Homo sapiens: one gene and its partners. The protein of the gene in region 4 interacts with the protein of the main gene of each other region in a biochemical or structural test. Each region holds a gene or a part of one and is shown on either strand. Other genes may lie near its edges.

The links.
Region 1: the proteins of SMC3 (region 4) and KIFAP3 form a complex in vitro, tested with the Homo sapiens proteins (one study listed by BioGRID).
Region 2: the proteins of SMC3 (region 4) and MXD3 form a complex in vitro, tested with the Homo sapiens proteins (one study listed by BioGRID).
Region 3: the proteins of SMC3 (region 4) and FEZ1 form a complex in vitro, tested with the Homo sapiens proteins (one study listed by BioGRID).

Annotation. Positions count from the first base shown.
Region 1 is NC_000001.11:169,920,809-169,924,709, reverse strand, and holds the end of KIFAP3 (kinesin-associated protein 3), read left to right. Parts: intron 1-1,607; coding exon of another isoform or gene 1,608-1,644; intron 1,645-2,928; coding exon 2,929-3,034; 3' UTR 3,035-3,381; downstream 3,382-3,901. UniProt on the Homo sapiens protein: Involved in tethering the chromosomes to the spindle pole and in chromosome movement. Binds to the tail domain of the KIF3A/KIF3B heterodimer to form a heterotrimeric KIF3 complex and may regulate the membrane binding of this complex.
Region 2 is NC_000005.10:177,308,870-177,316,047, forward strand, and holds the start of MXD3 (max dimerization protein 3), read right to left. Parts: upstream 3,030-7,178; 5' UTR 2,962-3,029; coding exon 2,892-2,961; intron 2,616-2,891; coding exon 2,510-2,615; intron 1,829-2,509; coding exon 1,799-1,828; intron 1,672-1,798; coding exon 1,557-1,671; intron 1-1,556. UniProt on the Homo sapiens protein: Transcriptional repressor. Binds with MAX to form a sequence-specific DNA-binding protein complex which recognizes the core sequence 5'-CAC[GA]TG-3'.
Region 3 is NC_000011.10:125,493,263-125,500,710, reverse strand, and holds the start of FEZ1 (fasciculation and elongation protein zeta-1), read left to right. Parts: upstream 1-4,445; 5' UTR 4,446-4,590; exon of another isoform or gene 4,591-4,875; intron 4,876-5,095; exon of another isoform or gene 5,096-5,497; intron 5,498-7,448. UniProt on the Homo sapiens protein: May be involved in axonal outgrowth as component of the network of molecules that regulate cellular morphology and axon guidance machinery.
Region 4 is NC_000010.11:110,577,681-110,584,714, reverse strand, and holds part of SMC3 (structural maintenance of chromosomes protein 3), read right to left. Parts: intron 6,881-7,034; coding exon 6,801-6,880; intron 6,088-6,800; coding exon 6,009-6,087; intron 3,812-6,008; coding exon 3,694-3,811; intron 2,793-3,693; coding exon 2,617-2,792; intron 2,154-2,616; coding exon 2,073-2,153; intron 1,332-2,072; coding exon 1,167-1,331; intron 875-1,166; coding exon 753-874; intron 533-752; coding exon 319-532; intron 1-318. UniProt on the Homo sapiens protein: Central component of cohesin, a complex required for chromosome cohesion during the cell cycle. The cohesin complex may form a large proteinaceous ring within which sister chromatids can be trapped.

The DNA of each region.
Region 1 (3,901 bases), on a different chromosome or scaffold from region 4:
CTACATATTCCAAAAGAATGTCTCCAGGTTTTAGCATCCTAGAAAGCCTGATTTCCCCCACTATATTAGAAAGAAGCAAATGAGAGTTTAAAGAAACAAACTGTTATGTTTCACAGTGAATTTAATTAAAAATGTATGTAGATATAGTTGATTTTTCATAATACAAAAGGACCTAGGACCTATGTCAAAGTACTCTCCAAACTGATCATAAATGTTTTAAATATTTTTTGCTTTAAACAGCAAGTTCATCTGTGATACATAATGGAGAATTCCAGAAAAGATCATTTTAGAGTTTGGTTTCAAATTTTATTCCTTTTTTCCAAAACGATATTTGTATATAGAAATTCGAAAAATTAAATGATATCCTCTACACTGTAATACACACAGATGTCTCTGGGTGAACTGCTGACTACATAAATAGATCTTTACCATAGTAACCTAAAGACCATACTGTTCAAGACCAGAGATTTACAGGTTCAGAAACTCAGACTCATCAGTGCTCAAGGGCCAGTCTTTCACTGACTTGGGACTGCAGGTTTTTATCAACAATGTGCATGACATATTTTAAAAAGAAAAATCCATTTGTTAATGTACAATGAAAGTTATAACCATCAGGTGGATTAGGTAATATCTAAGTTTATTATTTAACCTGTTGGCAAATTACATGGGAAATTACAGTGATCAATAGTTTGCCTATTAGTCGTAGAAATAAAAAAAAGGGGGAGAATTTTGCAACTTGAATGTAGAATGGCCTCAGACTCTGAGAATGTTAAATTCCCTTCCTGATTGAGGACCAAACTGCAAAAAGGCCAGATATTCCTTATGGTGTTATAGCTTACCAGATCACCACGCAATTGCCTAGGTTGCTACAACCAGCGTTGTAGCTGAGACGCTCCTTGTTCTGTGCCAATGACTGGTGAACTCCCTTCTGAGGACCATCTTCTTTTAGGTAGAATTACAGTGATATTGCTAACAAGTCGTCTGTGAGATACTCTGAAGGTGCCTTTGCATGTTTCCTCACTGTCCCACATATGCCTCTTGTTTTCATATTACTGAAATAGATCTTGCCATAGCCCCTAGATTGAGAAACAAGCATAAGATTAACTTGAGTTTAACCTAAGTCTACTGCTATTTGGCCTCAGAGGAGTTGCTAAAAAAGATAAGGACTGGTTGAAGACAGGTAATAAGCAAAAGATGAAGAAGGAACAAGTTGAAATCCAAGCTATGTAATCAACAGTTATATAATTGAGAGTTCTTTAGATACATGATTACTTGTTAGCCTTAGTGCTTGCAGAGAACAGTTTTCAATAACTTCTCTAATTTTAAGCTGATACCAGTGTCTCTTAGTTCACTGATTCCACTAATTTCTGAAGCATCTTTTAAGCTACCTCTTGATTTCCTCATCACAAAATTTAGTCTCTCTTCCCATGAGATCAAAGTTAGAAAAAGTGCCTATATTTTTACCATTTCAAAATAAAATGTAGACTTAAAAATTTCAACCAACTTTGAGAAACTATAGACAGAGTTTTTATATAGAAGGACCCCAAAACAACAAATTTTGTCCAGAATCGCTCAGTACAAATGCTAACCTGAAACTTGTATTTCAGAACTTCCATTCTCCTAAAGGGCAGAGTCACTGGACCAGTATGTGTTATATGTATTTTGGCTCTTTACATTTACTCTTTAGTTCCATCTTAATACACACAAGCACGCGTGCACACAAACACACACACGCATTCACACATTTATTTAAAACCTTAACATTTTAATAGTTACTTCTAAAGTGTGTCAACTTAATCTCACTCTGAGTGTGACAGGGAGTTAGTGCCTATGTGAATATATTTTTTCATCACATTCAGTTTTTGCTATTGAGGGAAAATTATCTTTCCATCTCATGTAGTGCAAACTTAAATCTTAAATCATTTAAATATGTTTTATTTTTCCAAAGCTTACATTTCTGCATTACAAATGGTGTCCATTGATTGGAAGTCAAGCTCACTAGCATTCACTGCATGAGCTATGCATGAGCATGTTAAGGCCACCATGTTCTGCCTGGCAAAATAAATACTTTATCATTTTCCTAAGTGTTGGATAATTCCCTGACCTTTAAAAAGGACTTTGGAGAACAGATTTTCCTCTAAATAATGTATTAATAGACCAACAAGTAATTTTTTTAAAATAATAATCATGAAGTTTAACATACTTCAAGCTATCTTTACAACTCTGAAGGTTATCTTTGGGTTTCTGTTATTCCCATAGAATAAGTTGAACCAAAATTTGTAATTGTCTTGCTGTCACTCAAAAGAAATAGATATGTTTTGTAATTGTTTGCATTGAGGAATCAGAGGAAGGATTTGCAGATCAAATCTGACTAATTTTCAAATTTTGTCAAATTCCTTATCTTGTTCTTTTAATCATAGGCTTATGGTATGATTTGGCCCTGCATGAGAGTTCACTGATATAACTCAAACACATGTTTTTACTAAAAGTGGAATTAGTCCTGTATCTTCATATGAAAAGACATTATAAACAGCAAAACTCACTTTACTACAGTTTTATTTTTATCATTCCCTAGCAATATATTACTGATCATTGCTAGCATGTAAAATCTTTTCATATTTTTGCTTAAGAGCCATATATAAGTAATTTATTAAATAAAACTTTTCTGATTTGATTCTTCCACTTTGTTTCAAATAGTACCTACTGACAGAGGTTTCCCATACTTTTAACACACATTGTTAGAAGTATTTTATTATATACACTTTTAATGGCTCTATTAACCTTAAAAAAAAAAGTTAATGATATCCACCTAAATCACTATCCCTGCTAGGAAGAGAATCTTGGTGGTATAAAAATGTAGGCCTCTTAATCTGCATTGTGGATGTGTGATGAAAAACATAGCTTATCATTCTTTTTTTTCTTTTTTAGCCTTGGAATGGATGGCTTTGGCCAACCAGTTGGCATTCTTGGACGCCCTGCCACAGCATATGGATTCCGCCCTGATGAACCTTACTACTATGGCTATGGATCTTGATAAAGTATCTGTTTCCATGTGTAATCTCAGCTTAGAAGAAATCTGTGTGGGTTGGGTTAATTTTGGATCTTTGCCTAATAATGCATGTTGATGTTATTGTGGGTCTGTGTTTGTTTTTATTTTTATATGTTGTTAGCTGCAGATTAACCCCAGCCCCTCTGTCTTCTGTTAAGTACAGTTGATACTGACATTGTTCACTCATCAAACCACATCTTGATGCTAAGTAACATTTCCCATGAGCCACAAAACTGAATGCTGAAAAGCTACTAGACTGGAAAACAAACACTGCATTATGTATGTTAAGTGACTAATTTAATTTCAATTAAAAAGCGTAAAGTGAAAATGAATAAGTGAAAGTCATGTGTTTATATTTCACACATTTCACTACGAATTACATGTTAATATAGGGTGCGCGTGAATTTTATTTTTTCTCCTTTTTTTCTGCTTGTAAACTCTTGAGTAATTTGTATAATATATGCTACCTTTAAAATTTATAAAAAGAACATCACCTTCATATTCCATGCCATGTGCCTGAAAGTTTCCTTCCCAAAGTTTATTAACTATGAGTTTTCAATTAATAATGGAACATATGTCATAAGTTATTTATGGTTATAGTCTCTTTGGTGGTTTTAATTCATATCTTCCTAGTTGTAATATAGAAATCCTAGGACAAGTAGTATACAAGACAAGCAGTGATACAAGATTAGCATTTGGCTTTTAACTTTTATTCTTCATAAATTTAGTATCTAAAGCATGGGAAAGCTAATTAAAAGTCGCATTAAGGAAAACTAAGGAACAGAATATTTCACTCACTTGGGTACCCAGTTCCCAATTGTTCACTTGTTCTTATAACGTACATTTAGATAG
Region 2 (7,178 bases), on a different chromosome or scaffold from region 4:
CGCCAAGCTCTGCCAGCCCTGAAGTTCCAAGGACTGGAAGGCCAAGGGCTCTCCCAGGCGGAGCCCTCAGTGGGCAGAAGCTTACATTCGGTCATTCAACAAGAAGGGGAGAACTGGGCCATGGAGGCGTTTGGACTGGGCGTAGAAAGATAAGAGCTGCCGAGGCAAACACAGGGAGGAAGAAACGTCAAGACACAGCAGAGGGAGCCTGGGAAGAGCACAGAGCATTCAGCTTCTGTGGGGCACAGGGAGAGATGAGGCCAAAAGAGCAGCCTACTGGCAAGTCCTGGGTTATGAAGGGCCTTGAGTTTCACAGGAAGGAAGGGGAGCAGAGGCTTTGTCCTGTCAGGGGCCACTGGTGGGTTTTCAGCAGGAGATGGGCCTGGGTAGATAGGTGTGCTGCAGAGATCATTCTAGAGCAAAGTAGAAGACAGCCTGGTGGAGGCAAAACAGGTAACAGGAAGGCTGGGAGGAGGCCGGTGAATTAATCCAGGAGAGGGGTGATGGAGCCCCAGAGAAGGAGCACTGCCCAGGTCCTGCCCACAGGCCAGCCAGCCCCTGAGGGGCACACATCATCCATCCGAGAACCAGGCCAGGCAAGCTCCGTGTGAGAAACTGGGCCACTACCCAACCAGAGTGTTACTCAGCCACAATGATGGTAATAACAGACGCCGGGCGGCAGTGCAGCTGTTCCCGCAGCTGTGGTTTATTTACTAACAGCGCATAGGTCTTTGTGTGCCACAGCCCCCAGTGCCTAGAATAGGGCCTAGCAGAACCAGTGCTCAGTAAACACTTGTCAGAGGAGATAACGCAAGCCAGGGAACTGGGCATGGGTCCTGAATCTGCCGCCCATCAGCTGTGCAACTTGTTGGCCCTCAGCCTAGCTGTGCCTTCATGTATTCCTCTAGAGGGCAGGAAAAGTCCTGTGGTTTCCAAGGCCACTTCTGACATGGCCAGGGCCACCTGGGCCTTTATTCAGCACATCCACTCCTGTCCACCAGGGGGCACTGAGCTCAGCCCCAGCAGCAGCAGGAGCCCTGGGAGGACCAGTGACTGGCGTCTTCTCAGTCCTTTCCCCTCCTGTCCCTGGAGCTGCCTCCCAGGTGGCACCAGGATAGACTGCCCATAACAGGAGGCCTTGAAGGTGAGAGGGGGAGAGCAAGGACCAACCCTCTACAGTCCCAAGGACCCCCACATACATCCCATCACAGAATTCAACAGCCATCCCCTCCCCTCAAACAGGAGGGAAGGTTAGTCCAGACAGGCTAAGTAACCTGCCCAAGGTCTCACAGCTGTGATCTAAGTGATAACAGCTGTAACAGCAACAGTGAACATTTATAGAGTGAACTCATTTAAGCCTCAACAACCCTCTGAGTTATTGTCTGCTTTTCTTCCCATTTAATGGATCTGGAAAGTAAAAGCTCAGAGAGCTGTCCTAAGTCACACAGTTCTTGAGCTCTGACCTCAGGTCTCGTTCCCCAGTCCCACCAGCCCCTCCATAGCACAGCCCTCCATACACCAGGGCAAGCCAGTCCGGGCGCAGTGGGGGGCCTCACCTGGATGTGCATCCTGGCACGGCGCAGCAGGCTCAGCGTGGTGTACCGGGCACAGTCGGCCCCCAGGGGCATCTGCTGCTTCAGCCGCTCCAGGCACCGCTTCAACTGGGCCCTCCTGTGGGGAAGAGGTCTGGAGGGCAGTGCCAGCCCCACCTTGCCGGCCACAGGAATGGCAGGGGAGGGAAGGCCAGAGGGCAGTGGCCCCTGGGGGCTGGCGCTGTCAGGGCAGGACTGGGACTCACCTGCGCTTCTCCAGTTCATTGTGCACTGACCTGCCAATGCCAGAGAGGATGAGGTGAAGGGGAATCAGCTACTGCCCATGCCCCAATCCCAGGGCCCCCAGTGGCTCAAGAGCCACTACAGATGTCTGCCCCAAACAAGTCCCCTGTGGAGAGCTCATGCTGGCCTCAGACACCAGAGTCCCCTGGCAGGGCGAGGGGAGTCAAAGACACACGGAGCCAAATGCTTAACAGAAGCCTGCCCAGGTGGGTATGAGGGCCCTAACAAGGGCGCCTGCCAGCTGGCCAGAAAGGACCTCCCAGAGGTGACAGCTAACTGCGGAAACAGATGTTTCCCAAGCCGGTACTGGAGGGAGGGGCATTCAAATAGGAGGGAACAGCATATGCAAAGGGCTGGGGAGAGGAGAGAAGAGGAGGAAGCCAGCGGGGGAGGTGAGTGGCCTGATGTGTGGGGTGCGGGAGTGCGAGTGGAAGCGGGACCCCAACTGCTGTTGGCAGTTCCCGGCACATCTAGAGGTGCTCAAGAAATAGTCCTTGAATGAATAGAAAGGTGTGAGTGTGTTTGGAGAGTGGGGAGATGGCAGGAGGGGTCTGAACGCTTCCTGGAGCGGGACACCTGGCCCAAAAGATGCAAGCAACAAGTGGGCAGAGGAGGGCCCGACCAGGGGCGGCGCCCACCCCCACCCCCACTCCCGCCGCCCCCGGCCTCCTCACCGCCCGCTGTCCTGCGCGCCAGGAGCCTGGGGGGGTCGCTTCTTCCTCCTGTGGATGGGGCCTGGACTGCGATGCGGGCACAGGGACGCATAACCATGCTCGGCCTCTGCCAGAGAGAGTCCCCGCCCGCGTCAGGCTGGGGCTGGACCTGGTCCCAGCGGCAGCCCCAGGCACAGCACGGTCAAGGAAAGGCTTTTGGCGCCAGGACCATTTCCCCCACCCGTCCCTGCTCTACCGCCCCGGGACTCCTCTCGAGTTGAGGGCGAGGCGCCCCGGGATTACTGTCCTAGGGCGGTGCATCCTTCAAGCTGGGAGCCAGGTCCAGTCCAGGCCCGTGTCAGCGAGGTCGCCGCCCGGAATTCAGCCAAGGGTCCTTCCTCACCTCTCTCACGGCGCTCCAGGAACTCGGCCGCCTGCAGCAGGACCTGGATGTTGCTGGCCAAGGGTTCCATGTCGGCGACAGCTGGCGGCGGGCCGGCCTAGGGTGCCGGCCGGAGCAAGCGGCTGCAGCACTTTTGTTACAAAGTAACTGACACGGTGCAACAAACACAGGGGCCCGCCCCGCCCCCGGGACGCCCCGCCCGCGGGAACGCCCAGCCCTTGGCTCCGCCCCTCTGGAACCCGCCACGGAGCCGCAGCCCACCCTCCGGCAGCCGCCCCGCCCCGAGTGGTCTCAGACTTTCCAGGGGCAGGTAAGGGCGCTGGCTCCAGGCCTGGCCCTGGAGCGAACCCTCAGGCTAACCGGTGCTGCTTCTTGCCCGCCTCACTCATCCACCCACGCCGGCTCATTGGCGTCTTTGATCTCAGCTTCCAGCCCCGTGCTAGTGACTAGCCCCCAACATAGCACGGCGCTCTGGGGGCCTGGTGGTCCCCTGAAAGCGCCGGGCCCAGCCGCTGCACGTGGGTGCCGCGGGGGCGGGGCCTCCGGCCGCCGCTCGCCCATTCGCACATGGCTTCTCAAGGATCGCTGTTGTCATCCTCGGGGCGGGGTCGGGGAGCCTCTGATGCCCTATTGGCTGGCGCTCTGCCCCGCCCTCTCCCGCCGCTGATCCACACGTTCGGGCGGGAAAAGAAGCAGGTTTCAAATTTGAAAACCCAAGCGATGGGGCGGGGTTGAGAGGGGAGCTGGGCCTCAATGCGCAGGCGCCGGCGGAGGGGCGGCGGACCCGGCTCCTGCCCTCCGGGGTCTGTCCCCAAGCCTGCCTGCCATCTGCCCCCGAAGGCCCCCGTGGGCCCCAGCTTCCTACTGTGTCGAATGGGAATAATATCTCGGCCCCCCTCCTCTTCTGTGAGGAAGCTGTTGTTGCTACGAAAACGTCAGTGGGGTAACAGCTTCCTCAGGCAGGCCATACCCTGGAGGCACGCGAAATGGCCTTTTCCGGGGCCTTGGGCTCTGGTATCCACGCAGTTGGGGTCCTCTCCTGTCACTGATGTCTCAGCTGTGTATGACTCAGGAGGTGACCTCCGTCTCTAAGCCTCAGGAGCCCTGCGACAGCGTTGAAGGATCAGAGCCAATGCCTCTGCGGTGCCCATGGCATGAAGGAGCCGCCCATCTCAAAGGCCAGTGCAACCAGACCGCGGCGTTTGCCTCCCAGGCAGCCCCTGCTTGCCTTACTCAGAGTCCATAAACCCTTCTTGCACCTGACTCTCCTAGCCGGCCGAAGGAGTGGCTGTGATGACTTCTAGCCTCAGCACCAGCAGGTGGGGCCACATCTGGGGACAGGAAGATGAACGCAGCTGTAGCAGGGTGGAGCATTGCTGCCAGCCACGGGCTGAGTCTGTGACTCCAGTAATCCCAAAATAGAGAGGGGAGGGAAGGTGGGAGGGATAGATGCTCTGTAAAGAGACAGTCCTGGTAAACACAAGCACATGTCAGTCAGGCCTCAGTTCCTTGGGAAAAATCTTTTTTTTTTTTTTGAGTCTTGCTCTGTTGCCCAGGCTGAAGCGCAATGGCTCAGTCTCGACTCACTGCAACCTCCGCCTCCCGGGTTCAAGCAATTCTCCTGCCTCAGCCTCCCAAGTAGCTGAGACTACAAGCGCCCACCACCACACCCAGCTAATTTTTGTATTTTTAGTAGAGACGGGGTTTCACCGTGTTGGCCAGGCTGGTCTCGAACTCCTGACCTCAGGTGATCCACCCACCTCAGCCTCCCAAAGTGCTGGGATTACAGGTGTGAGCCACCGTTCCTGGCCGGGAAACATCTTGAAGTTTCGGCCAGGCGCCGAAAAAAAATGAAGTTTCTCTAAGAGTTGCTCACAGCGGAATAACTGCCCTGTCTAGGCAGACGATCCATCTACCCAGCCGCCTGTCCTTAACTCACAAAGTATTTGCTGAGCTCTCACTGGACACCAGGCGCTGTGCTGGGGGCTGGAGGACATACGATAGGCAAAATCATACAGGGTCCCTGCCCTTGCAGAGCTCATAGGCTTGAGAGGGAAAGACACCAATACAGTCGCAGGAAGGCGGAGGTCCAGCTGGACAGGTCCTCACAGGGAGAGACCATGCCCCACAACACATTCTAAGGAACATTTGACCTAATTGGTGAGGCCAGAGAAGGCTTTACTGGGGAAATGGATGAAGAGGTGTTATCTAAGTATAGGAGAGATGAAAGAATTCTAGACAAAGGAACAGCACATGCAAAGGCCCTGGGGCTGAAAGGAGCATGGCAGGGGCGGTGTGGCTTACAGAGAGCAAATAGCCTGGTGCAGGCTGACACTGGAGAGGCTGCAGGGCCCAGAACATGCTGATGGGTTCCCCCAAACTCCCCCCTGCAATCAGCCATCTCTGAAGGAAGGAGCCGCAAGGGTTGTGAATGAATTTCCAATTTTATTTCACTAAAGTCAGCACCATGCAGTGCAGACACGAACCTACTCAGATGTCTGGGCCCTAGGTGGCCTGGCCTCCAGTCTGGGTGGGATAGGGGTGGGGAGGTTCTGAAGGAGGAGAATTTTCAGCAAAGGGAAAGAAGGAAGCATATGTGAGCTGAAGACATGGCCAGGAGGTGGTGGGAGTCGGGGTGGGGCTGCAGAGGGGCTGGAGGGCTCATGTCAAGGAGTTTGGACTTCATCCTAGGAGCTGCAGAGCGGTTTTGAGCCAGGGACAGCATGTGGGCTGGGGTCAAGGCCACCGGCCAGGCCAGACAGGAACAATACCTCCCCAGGAACAGGATGGGACGGGGCATGGGGGGATCCAGCCTGGACCAGCAGGGATCCTGCCCCAAGCCCTTGGATGTCCCCTGGGCCCCTGTGAGAAAATGCTAGAGCTAGTGGCCTCTAGGCACAGGACTGGACAGAGGAGCTGCAGTGCCCCCCCAGCAGTGACCAGCCCAGATCCTCTGCCCTGGAGTCCGCAGGGTCCTGCGCTTCGCCCTGTGACCTCCTGCCTCCACCAGCCCACTGTAACTGGGGTTCTGCTGCCTGTACTTGCAGTGCAGACTCTACCCGGGTCTATGGTCCTCTGGGCTCCAAGGACAGAGTCTGCATCTGTGCCCTGAGTGGAAGGGGAGAAGGGAGACCCCCCCGCCCCAGGCCTTTGTCCCAGTTAGGACCCCTTGAAGAGGGGAGCCAATCCTGGGCTCACCGTCCTCCTCCACTCCATGGACACTCCATGGTGCAGGAGGAGATGGCCCTGCGTTCCCCAGATCCCTTTCCCCTTCTCCCCTGCAAGGAAGAGTCATCGGGGGAGTCGGGAGCCTGGCTCCGACCCTGGAACCCTGCCCAGCCTCCTCCCTGGGCTGCCCGCAGCCTCCCCTCTCCCAGAGAGCAGCACTCCCCAGTCACAGAGCTAACCAGGTCACGCCCCCACTGAAGGCCTCATGCCCCCGCTGAAGGCCCACGCTCCCATGGCCTTCAGGACAAAGTTTGAGCTGGGCAGGGGACATGCCATGGCCTTGCCCACCTCCCTGCCTCTGCCATCTCTGCTCAATGTCACTTGCTCCAGGAGGTTCCCAGGCCTCCCTCCTTCAGCGCATTCTCCCAAGTAGCAGTGGGCCCTGCATCTCTCAGGGTCAGCCTCTTCCTGCAGACTACGACCTCAGCGACAGAGCAAACCAATGCCGAACAGGGGCTTGGCCAAGCCATAGGCAAGGGGTAGGGAAGGGCTGGTGGGCCTGTGTCTCCATGCCCATAGGATGTCAGAAGAAGCAGTCAGCAGACCCCCACACAGAGGCCACCTCTGGAACGCACCCCCCCCCCCCGCCAACCCCAGCTGTTGTGGCAGTGCAGCATAATGATCAGGAGTTGGGTGCCAGCCGGTCCCTCGCTTGGTGTCACAGGGGCTAAGCCAAGAGGCCAGCCCTGGCTAGACAGGTCTCAGAAGTGCCTGGCAGCCCCTGCTATCCGGGGAGGAACACTGCAAACAGGCCTCTGTAGGCTCAGTAGTATGGCCATTTTTTTTTTTTTTTTTTTTGAGGTGGGGTCTTCTGCTGTCACCCAGCTGGAGTGCAGTGACACAATGAGGGCTCATTGCAGCCTTGACCTGCTGGGCTCAAGCAATTCTCCCGCCTCAGCCTCCCAAGTAGCTGGGACCACAGCTGCATGCCACCATGCCTAATTTTTTTATTTTTTGTAGAGATGGGGTTTCACCATGTTGGCCAAGCTGGTCTTGAACTCCTGACCTCAGGTGATTTGCCCCCCTCAGTCTCCCAAAGTGTTGGGATTACTGGCTTGA
Region 3 (7,448 bases), on a different chromosome or scaffold from region 4:
AACACAGTTTGTCTTTTGTTCAGTTTCTAACAACAGTTCCTCATTTCCATCTTAGACCTTACCAGAATCACCTTTAACATTCATATTCCTATTTGTTATAATAATATATGTATTCTCTATGACCGTAGAAACTTTCTCTACAGTCTCCTCATTTCTGAAGCCTCACTAGAATTGCCCTTAATATTCATAATTATACCAACAGTCTCTTTGGGGCAATATAGGCTTTTTCTGTCATGTGTCTCAAACTTCTTCCAGCCTCTTTGCATTACGATGTTCCAAAGGCACTTCCACATTTTTAAATATTTGTTACAGCAGCATCCCACTTTCTACTACCAAAATTTGTACTAGTTTCCTAGGCCTGCCACGACAAATGATCTTTAAATAGAAATTTATGGTTTCATGGTTCTAGAGGCTGGAAGTCCAAAATCAAGCTGTCAGCAGGGCCATGCTACCTACTGAAGGTCCTGGGGAAGAATCTTTTCTTGCCTCATTCTAGCTTTGGGTGGTTCCTGGCAATCCTTGGTGTCATTTGGCTTGTACCTGAATTACTCCAATCTCTGCCTCCTTTCCTATGCATGCTCTCCTCTTGTATTTTTTGTTTTTGTTTTTGACATAGTCTTGCTTTGTCACCTGGGCTGGAGTACAGTGGCATGATCTCAGCTCACTGCAACCTGCGCCTCCCCGGTTCTAGCGATTCTCCTTCCTCAGCCTCCCAGGTAGCTGGGATTATAGGTATGTGACACCACACCCTGCTAATTTTTTTTTTTTTTTAATTTTTAGTAGAGATGGGGTTTCGCCATGTTGTCCAGGCTGGTCTCGAACTCCTGACCACAGTTGATCTACTCACCTCCCAAAGTGCTAGGATTACAGGTGTGAGCCACCATGCCCAGCCTCCTCTCCTCTTCTTATAAGGACACCAGTCATTGGATTTAGGGCCTACCCGAATCTAGTATGACCTCATCATAACTGATTACATCTGTAAAAGTCACATTCTGAGGTTCTGAGTAGACACAAATTTTAGGAAAATACCATTCAATCCACTGCAGGTTCTAAGCAGCAGAGTTTGGAAATCAACATACTAAACATGGAACCTCTTGAAAGCATGCCTTCATTTTTAGCTCCCCAGCTTCTAGCCTAGGTCATGGAATGCAACCAATGCTTGCTGGAATTTGTACACCGATGTTGACAGCAGCATTATTTTTTTATTCTTTCTTTCTCACTCTAATCCCATGACAGATTAGTAGCATTATTCACAATAGCCAAAAGGTGGAAACAATCCAAATGTCCATGGGCAGATGAATAGATAAACAAAATGTAGTATATACATACCATGGAATATTATTTACCTTAAAAAGAAAAGAAATTCTGACATTGTTGCAACATAGATTAACCTTGAAAACATTGTGCTAAGTGAAATAAGTCAGATACAAAAAACAAATATTGTATAATTACACTTACATGAGGTACTTAGAATAGTCAAATTCTTAGAGACAAAATTAGAATAGTGGTTACCAGGGGCTGGGGAAGGGAGTACTGGGGAGTTAGTGTTTAATGGATACAGAGTTTCTGTTTGGATAACAAAATTTCTGTAGATGAATAGTGGTGGTGGTTACACAGCAATGTGAATGTGTTTAATACCAGTGAATTGTACACTTAAAAATGGTTAAAATAGTAATTTTTATGTTATATATATCTTACTACAATAAAATAAGTGTTTGCTGGAAGAATAACTGGGCTCATGTTCAGGGATTTCTCATCCTAGGTACCTAGCCTAGGCTACTTGTCCTCAGCTTTCAGTTTCTTCATAGCCTCACAAAAATAACCACAGAATCCACTAATTGGTTTCTTATTATATGCCAGGCACTGTGCTAAGCATTTTGCATGCATTATATTACTTAATATGCATAACAACAACCTTGTAGTAGATATTGGCATCCAACAGCAGATATTGGCATCTCCATTTTACAGATGAGAAAACTGAGGTACAGAGAGGATAACTAACAAGGTCACCAGCTGAAGACCAAGTTCTTTATCACTTTCAGTACTTCACAAGCTTCTCTCAAATCTGTTTGTCCCATGCTCTGAAGATCTAGACAAAAGATGGCCTCAAATTAGCCAAGACATATATATATATACATATATATACACATATATATATACACACACACACATATATATACACACACACATATATATATACACACACACATATATAGGACATCTATATGAGACATATATATGGGACATCTATATGAGACATACATGTGGGACATCTATATGAGACATACATGTGGGACATCTATATGAGACATACATGTGGGACATCTATATGAGACATACATGTGGGACATCTATATGAGACATACATGTGGGACATCTATATGAGACATACATGTGGGACATCTATATGAGACATACATGTGGGACATCTATATGAGACATATATGTGGGACATCTATATGAGACATATATGTGGGACATCTATATGAGACATATATGGGACATCTATATGAGACATATATATGGGACATCTATATGAGACGTATATATGGGACATCTATATGAGACATATATATGACATATATATGTGTGTGTGTATATATATACACACATACATACATATAGTGCCTTCTAATAAACCTGGAAGTACTTTACTCATATTCACTCCTTTAATCCCACAACAGGCCACAATAGAGTGGGGCACTATTATTTTCTTTCTTTTTTTTTTTTTTGAGTCGGAGTCTCGCTCTGTCACCCAGGCTGGAGTGCAGTGGCGCAATCTCGGCTCACTCCAAGCTCCGCCTCCTGGGTGCACGCCATTCTCAGCCTCCCGAGTAATTGGGACTACAGGCGCCCGCCACCACGCACAGCTGATTTTTTGTATTTTTGGTGGAGATGGGGTTTCACCGTGTTAGCCAGGATGGTCTCGATCTCCTGACCTCGTGATCCGCCCGCCTCGGCCTCCCAAAGTGCTGGGATTACAGGCGTGAGCCACCGCGCCCGGCGGGCACTATTATTTTCTTCATTTTACAGATGAGGAAATGAGCCACAGGGAAGTTAACTAACCCAAGGTCACAAAACTGGGCATGATCCCAAGAAAGGAGATCTAGGGATCTTTTAACCAGCTACTCTTTGTGATTTATTTATTTATTTATTTACTTTTGAGACAAGGTCTTGCTGTCGCCCAGGCTGGAGTGCAGCTTCAACCTCTTGGGCTCAAGCGATCCTCCCACCTCATCCTCCAGTGTAGCTGGGGCTACCAGGATGGGCTACCAGGATGGGCCCACCATGCCTGGCTAATTTTTTTTTTTTTATAGAGATGGGGTCTCACTATGTTGCCTAGGCTGGTCTTGAACTCCTGGCCTCAAGTGATCCTCCTGCCTCAGCTTTCCAACATGTTGGGATTATAGGTGTGAGCCACCGTGCCTGGCCTTATGATTTCTTACAGGAAGACATCCTCTGTCTATTGCTCCCACAAAGGCAAATAGGCCAACGCTTCTTCTCATCTCATTGGGACATTATTCCTGTTTCCATCCTTCTCATGGTTGAAATGTCTGTGGAATGAATGCATAAACGAGCAAAAGAGACGCTCCCTGCCCCTTCCAGTTGAAGTCCTCAGTTCAGCCCAGAGGTACTTTGCCATCAGACAAAAGTACTTGGGGTTCTCCAAGCCGACATGCTTTTTCCAGTGCCTTCCTTCGATAATTACAGTTCTTGTGCTCTTAGTTGTGTGTATTCGTGAATTATTAGATTTTTTATTGACAACTTCTATAAGCACAGGCCTATGCACAGTAGACAAGATAAATTAATAATTTTTCACAAGACTCCAGGGACCCTTCTCATTTCAGCCTCTTGAATTTTCCTGTATTATCTCAAGTCCTCCTGGGCCTGAAACCTTCTCACTCAGATTTTTCAGCTGGATCCAGCTCCCACCCAGCATCTTTGGGCGAGAAAAGCTCTCCTGCCGGCCTCCTCATTTTTGGCTTGAGGTCCGAACCCAGTTGGAGCTGGGAGACGTCGCTGGGCCTGCCCGCCTCAGCCTCCAGTAGAGGAGAATGGGAAACTCGGAAAGTCCAAAAGGGTCTTTGAGTGTGTCTGCCGGCATCCGCCAGCAGCCATCGCCTGCATTTTATCCAGAAACTAGTGTCAGGCTTTGCGAGGTATCCATATTGGTAGTTATTGCACGCTTTCATCTTGGAGTTTCTGAATATTCATGAGGGAAGCAGAAAGGCCAATGTTAAAGAGGAGAGAAACAGAAATGCATAAATATTAATAAAGGCAAGCCCACGTGCTCGGAGGAAGGCTATGAATGTTAACGAGGGGATGACGTCCAGCTCCCGCGCGTGCCAGTTGGGTGGGTGCCCGAGCGCGGGCGCGCCCCCGGAGCCCGGGCACGAGCGCGGGGAAGGGGTGGGGTGGAGGCGGGAGCGGAGCCGGGCGCCGCCGGAGCTGCGCGGGGAGCGCTCGCTGGCTGGCTGGCTGGCTGGCTCTCCGCTGCGCTGCGCTGCGCTCCGGCCGCTCCCGCGGCCCGTGGATGGGGGTGTCCGGCTGAGCCCCGGGATCCGCCTCCCTCCGCCAGGACCCGCACAGGTGCCGTCGCGGGGGTTGACTTTAGTTAGGACCCGACTCACTGCTGGGGGTGGGGTCTGGTGGGGGTGGTAAGGAGGCCCCGGGATTCTCTGACAGGACGGTCTGGGGTCGCCGCAGCTCCCCTCACCTGGTCCCATTCTGGGATTAGAAAGGAACAACGGGAGGCCGTCGCCTTCCTGCCCAGCCCTTCAGGGAGCGCAGCTGGGACGCCGCGCCAGGCCCTGGAGATGTGGGATGATGGGCACTTCCAGTATCATCTCAGCATCGGCCCTCCAGCCAGGCCTGGTGTGTGTGTGTGTGTGTGTGTGTGTGTGTGTGTGTCCGCGTGTGTGTGCCCGCGTGTGTGCGCGCGTGTGAAGGCAGGGCGGCGAGGTATGGGGGCTGGGGGAAGAAGGGAACGCCGCCCGATCGCGCTGGGGCAGTGGGTCGGTACCTCGTCCCGGGACCGTTATCTGGTCCAGTCACCGTAAACGCCCCAAGATCATCTTTGTCCCTAAAAACTTACCCCCGACCCCGCTCGTGCCCCTCCCCAGAGTGCGGAGCCTTCCCCAGACCGCGCATTCCTGCAGTGTCAGAACCGCTGGCAGCGGCCGCAGACGCCGGGAGAGCGATTGTTTTACTACAGACGGGCGGGAGAAGGGACCGGGGCGGCTGCGCGGTGGCGGGGCGCGCTGCCGTCGGGTGGGCCCCGGGCTCTGGAATGCGGGGAGCAGTGTTTGACGGCGTCGAGGAGGTATCACAGCCCGCTCTTCTTCCCTTTTGCCTATCCCTTCTCTCCTCGCCGCTAGGCATCCCCGACTCTCATCCCTCTCCCGTGTCCGGGCTTGTTTGGCCGGAAGGGCAGTGGAGTGTGTATGCGGCCTGCACGGGATGAGTCCGGCTTCCTCAGAGTGCCAGCCATTGTGCTGCCTGGAGGAGGCTTTCTTTACCCCACCGGACTGGGGGGAGGAGGGGGATCTGAGATGGAGGTGAATGGAGCAGCGGGAGGAGGGGGAGGGGAGCAAGCAGAACCGCGAAGGGGTTGCTGATCCATATGCAACGAAATACTTTTTCTGTCAAAATGTGCACAAACATGCACACTGGGTGGGTTCTGCGGAGGAGCAGTGGGAAATCTGAAGGTGGATCAGTGCAGGGTAGGTTTTAGGGACGGATATGGGGGACGAGGCACGGAATCAGTTGATCTATGGACCAAGTGATGGGAAGAAGGAGATGGAATGGGGCTTGTGTGGAGGTGCCGAGGCCCAGCGGGGTTAGCGTGGTGAAATCTCCACCGCTCCGCTCCACTCGGGTCAGCTCAGCAAAGCAGGGACTGAGCATTTGTACCGCAGCCCCGAGATGCAGCGAGTGCATCATTGTGCTGCAGGGAGACGTTTATGCGTTTCCTACTGGGTCTCTGTTAAGCCCCGTGAGTGTCTTTTCTTTTCCAAATTACACCATCTATTGGGAGTGAAAATAAATGGAATAGATTGTAGGACAATCAGACTATAGTCCTGCGCTCTGTTCTGTGGTAAAGAGAAAAAGAAAAGGCGACCCTCCCATGGTTCCTTCTTTCTGCCATTTTCATGTATGTACGTATTTATTTTTGATCTTGGAAGTCTAAAGGGAATAAGCTATCGCTTGTATTAATCCTACTTTAAGGAAAAGAAGGCTCCCAGATGAGCTATGAATGAGGATGGTGCAAGCTTGCCAGGATGGAAAATAAGGTTGTTTCAGACATTTTAGTTGAAGGATGAAAGCACTCCGTGAAGAGAGGAGGGCGAAAGAAAGTGGGCTAAAGGAAGGAAGGCAGGGTCACCATCTAAGGAAGTGCTGCCAACCCCAATCCACAGAGCCCTCCTGGAGGCTATAGTGGGGCCAGTCAGAACGCCTGACTCTCATCTGTGCCACAGCCTGAGGTCTTTCCACAAATGCTGGATTCAGTTTGGGTGTTGAGTGACTAGTTTCCCAGCACTGGCTTTCACTTTAACTTCATCTCCAGATGGTCATTCATGCAGCACTTCTTGGCTCTTGGATAATGAGTTGACAAAAAACAATCAGTCTATATTATGGACTGTTTCAAATGAGCATGTGTCTGAACCCTAGAGCTGTGATATTCATTTCGTCTTTTATAATTTTCTAGATGAATCCATTTTCTCTACACTCTGCCTGGGCAGAGTGCTTTCAGCACACTCTTCCTGTTGCCAACACTCAAAACTCAGTCTTAGTCCTAGATTCTGGTTGGATTGGCCTCTTGTTGCTGGTTAATCATATAGACTGTGTCATTTCAAATCAGAAACCCCACTGGTGTCACCATCTGCTTCTCCCCTGTCATTCCCAGAGAAAAGTACAAATTTAAAGGCAGTGTAAATACCTGCAACACTATCGGATTGGCTTTCATATCTCTGTAAAATGGAACCCACGATCCAGGAACCTTTGAACAAATAAATTGAAAAAAGAAGCCTTAGTAAAAAAGATGCTAAAATTCTTTCAGCAATAGTTCTCTTGTTTGATAAGCATATTGAAGCATTGCACAGAGAATATCATGGCAGGGATAATTTTTCTTTTACTTGAAGCACTCCCACATCACCTTTCTTTCTTTCTTTCTTTCTTTCTTTCTTTCTTTCTTTCTTTCTCTCTTTCTTTCTTTCTTTCCTTCTTTCCTTCTTTCCTTCTTTCCTTCTTTCCTTCTTTCCTTCTTTCCTTCTTTCCTTCTTTCCTTCTTTCTTTCTTTCTTTCTTTCTTTCTTTCTTTCTTTCTTTCTTTCTTTCTTTCTTTCTTTTCTCTCTTTCTTTCTTTCTTTCTTTCTTGAGATGGAGTTTCGCTCTTGTTGCCCAGGCTGGAGTGCAATGGCATGATCTCGGCTCACTGCAACCTCTGCC
Region 4 (7,034 bases):
GGTGGAGGCTGCAGTGAGTTGTGTTTGTACCACTGCACTCCAGATTGGGTGACAGAACAAGACCCTATCTCAAAAAAATTAAAAATACATACATACATTTTAATATACTTAATCTACATAAAGGCTCAATGACATGAATATTCTTTAAAAAAGAACTATATGTATATTAAACTGTGCAGGCCTTTTCTAAATAAGTATCTGTCATATATTTTAAGAGCAACATGTAGACTTATTTAAAAAGAAAACTTGAAGTAGATAAAACTAAACACATTTATCTCTTCTGAAAGATTTTTACAAAGCAGCTATAGAAGTTCTTACATTATACTGCTCCAGATTTTTCTCTTTATTTGCTTCAGTGTCTTCCAAATCCTTATGTATAGCAGCAATCTGTCTTTTCTTGTCATTAATAGCCTGATCTAAAGACTTGAGTTCCTTTTTAATCCACTTATCCCTTTCTTCTTTTGATGTAAACTGGCTTCCTCGACCCTGCTTTGCATAAAGATCCGTTCTTTCCTGGGTAGCTTGAGCCAATCTACACAAAATAGAAGCAAATGGGATGAAAAGGAGAATAATAACCAAGTTTAATTGCAACCAATAATGTCAACTGCACACAGAAACATAAAGCCATTTTTCAAAAAGATACAAAAAGAATTAAGTGTAAAAAGCAGCTACTATATAATTGAGCTCCTCGGACAACCTAGTTTTACATAATATGATGTAGAAAGTTAAAGTGTTGGTGAAAGTTCTCAGACCTAGCAATTCCTCGTTCTTCTTTCTCTTTCACACTGTTGAATTTGGGTTCTGTTTCTGCCAGTTCTTTCTGCTTTTCTTCTATTTTTTCAAGCAGCTTCTGCCTCTCTTTTAATAAACGTTTCTGTAAACAAAGTAAAAATGCAAACTGCTTTAAATTTTTTGCATAATTTAGGTCTAGCATAAATGTTTTCTCAGGAAAAAAACTTCATGAGAAAACCCACCTGTAACATGAAACTCTTTTTTAATGTAAGAAACAAAGGGACAGTACCAAGTTGTTACTTGAGTACAAATTATGCTAACGTAGCAAAGCTTAAAAAAAAATTCCAACACACACCAGTCACAGAAAGGGCTGTCTTCTACAGTTGCTACTCACCTGAACATTCACATCTTTCATTTTTAGCATTTTAACTTACCCTTTGTTCACTATTGCCTGCTAGTTCATCTTGTAAATCCTTGGCTTTAAGCTCCAACTTAGTCCTCTGCTTAATCTGCTCTTGTCTTTCAGCACTAAGCTGTTCTTTTTCTTCTTTCATAGCTGAAATTTTTGTTTTCAATTCTCTAACTTGGCGTTCGATATCCTATTCAAAAGTATTAAACAGAAAATAAGGCAATTAGAAGTACAATAGCAGAATTGTGACACCATTAATTCTCTTTCACTTAATGTTTAGTAATACTCTGTCCTTTCAATATTCAATTCCTCTAACTCTCCCTTGTGTAATCATTCCATAATTCTGGTACAAAAGGGTTTACTATGGTCAAAAACATACGATGGCTGGACATGGTTGCTCATGCCTGTAAACTCAGCACTTTGGGAGGCCCAGGTGGGAGGACTCCTTGAACCCAGGAGTTCAAAACCAGCCTGGGCAACATACTGAGATTCCATCTCTTCAAAAAATAACAAAAATAGGAGGCTGAGGTGGGAGGATCACTTGAGCTTGAGAGATCAAGGCTGCAGTGAGCTGTGATCTCACCACTGCACTCCAGCCTGTGCAATGGAGTGAGACCCTGTCTTCCAAAAAAAAAAAAAAAACTTCAGGAGGCTGAGGCAGAAGGACCACTTGAGCCCAGGAGTTTGTGACCAGCCTGGGCAACATGGTAAGACCTTGTCTCTACAATATATTTAAAAACTAGACAGGTGTGGTGGTACACACCTGTGCTCCAGCTATTCAGGAAGCTGCGGCAAGAGGATTGCCTGAGCCCAGGAAGTCAAGGCTACAATGAGCCATGATGGCACCACTGTACTCCAGCCTGGATGACAGAACAAGACCCTGTCTCAAAAGTAAAAAGTAAGTTAACATGAACCTTGTTTATAATCTTACCTCCATTTTATCTCTTGCATCCTGCTGAGCATCTCTTAATTGTCTGGATTTTTCTCCACTAGTCTCTCGCTTAGCAGAAAGCTAAGAAAAAAAACAACTTATCATATCTAACTCATTTTGTAATTACTAAATATTTCATAACATCTAATAAAAATTTTTCTATTAAAATAAACCAAAAGTAACTGCTCAAATTTTCTACAAAAATTTTAAAAATGATTTTAAACTAGAAAACTGAAGCACTAAATTTTTGTACAAAATGTGTAGTTTAGGATATACTACAACTACAAGAAGCCTTCAAAATGGCTTTCCTCTCATCTTGTCTGCCTAATACCACCATCTGATTATATTTCAGATAATACTATATAGCAAGGACCACATGGCTAATTTCCTTGAACTAAAAAAACTTGCTGACTAATAAATTCATTGAGAGGTTTTTTTTAAGTTTCTATTTAAAATCACTGAAAAGTGTAATTATGGCCTGAGTTTAACAAATTCATAAAAACAAAATTAATCTGATTTTAAGTGTCACAGGTAAATATTTTACCTCATCAAGTTTGGCACGAGTCTCGTTAAGTTCCTGATTGTAAATGGTATATTCCAGGGCTCGTCTCATTTTATCCCACTTCTGATACTGAGCTAGTTCTTCCTTTTCTTCCTCTAGAGTATGTAATCTCTCTTCAATGTATTTTAACAACTCATTGATTTTTTCCCGTTTGCCCTCTTAAAAGAAATGGGGAGAGAGGTGGAAGAATTGAATAAGATTTTTATGTAATATCACTTCTTAAATATACCTTGAATTAAATTATTTTTAAGAACTGTAGCATTATTTCTTTGATGTGATGTGGTAACCCAATTTAAAATACTAAAATAGCAATTAACCCATTTATGCCAGAGGTTGCAAATTTTTTTCTGTGAAAAATCAGACCTTGGCAATGACCTTGAGCAGTAGAATATAAGTAACATCCACAAGCTTAGGATTCCAATAATGGAATGCTAGGCATAAATGGGTTAAGATCCTTTATTATGAAAAGCACCAGAGAACAAATTTACACATGGTGACACTGGTTCTTTTATAACATGTAGTAAGGGCCTCAGTTTAAGCTTCCTTTTAAAAAGTCAGTGTGCCGGCCAGGCGCAGTGGCTCATGAGTAATCCCAGCACTTTGAGAGGCCAAGGCAGGTGGATCATCTGAAGTCAGGAGTTCGAGATCAGCCTGGACAACATGGTGAAACCCTGTCTCTACTAAAAATACAAAAATTAACTGAGTATGGTGGTGGGCACCTGTAATCCCAGCTACTCAGGGAGGCTGAGGCAGGAGAATCACTTGAACCCGGGAGGCAGAGGTTGCAATAAGCAGAGATCGCGCCACTGCACTCCAGCCTGGGTGACAGAGCAAGACTCCATCTCAAAAAAAAAAAAAAAAAAAGTCAGTGTGCGTTTCCACAATATTTTTAAAAGCTACTAACATCATTGGTGTTATGGATTCTCAATTTTTATTAATAACAGCATTATCTAATGCTGTCATATACTAAACACCTACTATATTCCCATCATGGAGCCACTCTGTCACAAAAACAGTAATTTGCAACAAAAAAATAAGGCAGAATCACATTTATTTTACCTGTTTCTTTCATTAAGGAGATGCTTTCTTCCTTTCGTTCGTCATACACTCTAGTACCAGCTACTTCTCTTAATAGCTTTAATCTCTGAGAATCTGGTGCTGTTGCCATCTGGTTGATCTAAAATTTTTAGAAAAATAATCATTACATAGCTGTAGCCTCCGTTTAAGAAGAAGAACTCCACGTTGAAAGGTTTTTAATACACATGAAGGTTGGGTATCCCTTATGCAAAATGGTTAGAAACCAGAAGTGTTACAGATTTTAGATTTTTTCAAGTTTTGGAATATTTGCATTTATACTTACCAGATGAGCAACCCAAATCCAAAAATTTGAAATCCAAAATGTTCCAACAAGCATTTCCTTTGAATGTCATGTCCACACTCGAAAGGTTTCAGATTGTAGAGCATTCTGTATTTCAGACTTTTGAATTTGGGACATGCCAAGTTTTAAACAGATTATGATTTGGCTAATGTCATTTGTATAGTACGCATGCCTACATATCTATGTCTCCTTTACTTAAATGAAATTTACCAAATAAAATCCAAATACAACTGTTACGGTCATAACTCTCCTTTATGAATAGGGCTAACAAGTGAAGGAGTATCTCACACCACCATCTTTTTCTTAGTCAATATGATAAGGTATAAAAGATGAGCTCCATTCTCAAAAAACAAAGTATTTTTATAAGGGAAAACCATCACTGACTACACTTTTTTTTAAAGCTACAATAATATATTAAAAGTCAATTCTTCCTCAGTTTCCATGGGGATTGGTTCTAGGACCCCCTGCAGGTACCAAAATCCAAGGATGCTCAAGTCCCTTATATAAAATGGCATAGTATTTGCATATAACCTATGCACATCCTTCCATATACTTTAATATCTAGATTAATTATAATAATACAATGTAAATGCTATGTAAATAGTTTTACTGTATTTTTAAATTTGTATTATTTCTTATTGTACTGTTTTAAAATTTTATTTATTTTAAATATTTTTGATCCATGGTTGGCTGAACTTGCAGATGTGGAACCTACAGATACAGAAGGCTAATGATATGACAAAAATGGTATGCTTTAAATATAGAGAGAATGGTACAACTTAAGTGCCATGCAACTTAATATATAACAAGTATCCCTAAATGTCAAAAATGATATCACTGCATTAAAAAATTGAAATTATCTCTACGAAAATAGGTCTATCAAAAGTATCTACATCAAAGAATCATCCTTCAGATCCTCATTATTGAACGCTCCAATTATACATATTGGTTCATGCAATTTCCTCACTTAAAAATTATTTTTCAAATGGCTACAACATATGTGCCACTGCTGGGCACTGGAAAAGAGCAAACAAAGCAGAAAAGGTCCCACCCTCATGGAGCTTACATTCTAATGGAAAAAGACAGAAAATAAGTACTATCCTAACAGTGTAAGTGTTATGAAGAAAAATAAAACAGATTAAGGAAATAAAGCACATAGGGTTGAGGGGACGGCAATGCTTTCAGATGAGGCAATCAAGGATGGCATACGGGCAGAAACTGAAATGAAGTAAAAGGGCCTAGATTGACAGCAGACGGATCTCAGAAAAGTGCTCTTTCAAATCAGCCTCCATTTAAAAAAATTTATCTCCCACAAATAGTTAAATCGGAAAAAAACGTGTTCTTCCAGTAACACATTTTCTAAAACTGAAACTCCATATTCTTCCTAATCACTTCTTCTAAATGCTAACTTTCCAATACATATCTAGAAAAAAAGGCCTACAGTATAAAATAAGTGAATATTCTTTGAGAATTTTCCCTAGTCCAAAAAAAAAGTGAAAGTATATGAGAAGAGAGCAGAACAATCAGCTAAAAAAGTTTGTAGTTTGGCTGCTGAAAAAATGTAAAAACATAATCCCTATTAGGGAAAATAACATGTGGCAAAATGGCAGATTTCTGGTAATGTTAGCTTTTCAGTATTTTAATTGTGATAAATAATTAGGTAACACAAAATATTAATTTTAGAAAGTTTTTCAAATGTGATTTTTATAGAATTCCTACAATATTCTTAATTATTGCAACATTCATAAGCCAATAATGTCTTCCCATACTTTCACCTCAGTAAGTAATACCAGTCACTAGGAAAACAAGATCCACTTAATATGCTGAAATACTTCCATCTCAACATGCAATGGACCTATTTGGTACTTTATGGCCATGTAAAAGAATATGGCCATTTTTGCTTCAGCTTAACCACTCAAATCAATAAACCAAATTCATCACTCAAGAATTACTCAGAAAACAAATTCTACTTAAAAAGGACATACAATTGTTTTACCTTTCCTTGTTTAACAATATAATAAGGATTGCTTCGAGAAAAACCAGCGCTTTCAAGGAGGTTCATCACATCATTTTTCCTGTTGACAAACAATGAAATTACTTTCCGATAAATAATTTTAAAGCACCATTAAGCAATGAGTAGAGTAGCCCCTTGGTTGATAGCATTAGGGAGGAAAGATCAGTAATTAAACCATCTGTATCATCCTCAGAACTTTCTGATTCTTATGTTTATCCTCTATATGTTGACTTGTTGAAGATGAAGCAAATATTCCTCATATATGAAGCAGGTAAAAGAATACTTTTTACTCTTTTGTAAGGAAATCATAAAATTGCGGGCTGGGCGCAGTGGCTCATGCCTCTAATCCCAGCACTTTGGGAGGCCAAGGCAGGCAGATCACAAGGTCAAGAGTTCGAGACCAGCCTGCCAACATGGTGAAACCCCGTCTCTACTAAGAATACAAAAAGTAGCCGGGTGTGGTGGTGACTGCCTGCAATCCCAGCTACTCAGAAGGCTGAGGCAGCAGAATAGCTTGAACCCGGGAGGTGGAGGTTGCAGTGAGCCGAGACTGCGCCACTGCACTCCAGCCTGGGCGACAGAGCAAGACTCCGTATTGAGAAAAAGAAAAATGCTGGCTGGGCGTGGTGGCTCATGTCTGTAATCCTAGCACTTTAGGAAGCCGAGGTGGATCATTTGAGGCCAAGAGTTCGAGACCAACCTGGCCAACACAGCAATACCCCATCTCTATTTAAGTACATATTCAGTTTTTTTAAAAAAAAGAAAAATGCTTACGTGACCATCTTCTTGTCTAAGAAATACTGATCCTTTTTGGCACCAATAACTCTTCGAAGTGAAACTTCCTCTTTATCGATCTAAGAAAAAATGTAAAAGCCCACAGTTAATTTAATAGTAAAGGAGAAAACTTTTTAAATAAGGTCATTTTAAAGTCCTTGCCCATAAGTATTTATTTTAAAATTTCAATTATCTCACTAAAAATAATACTACAAATACTCAATACTCTTAACC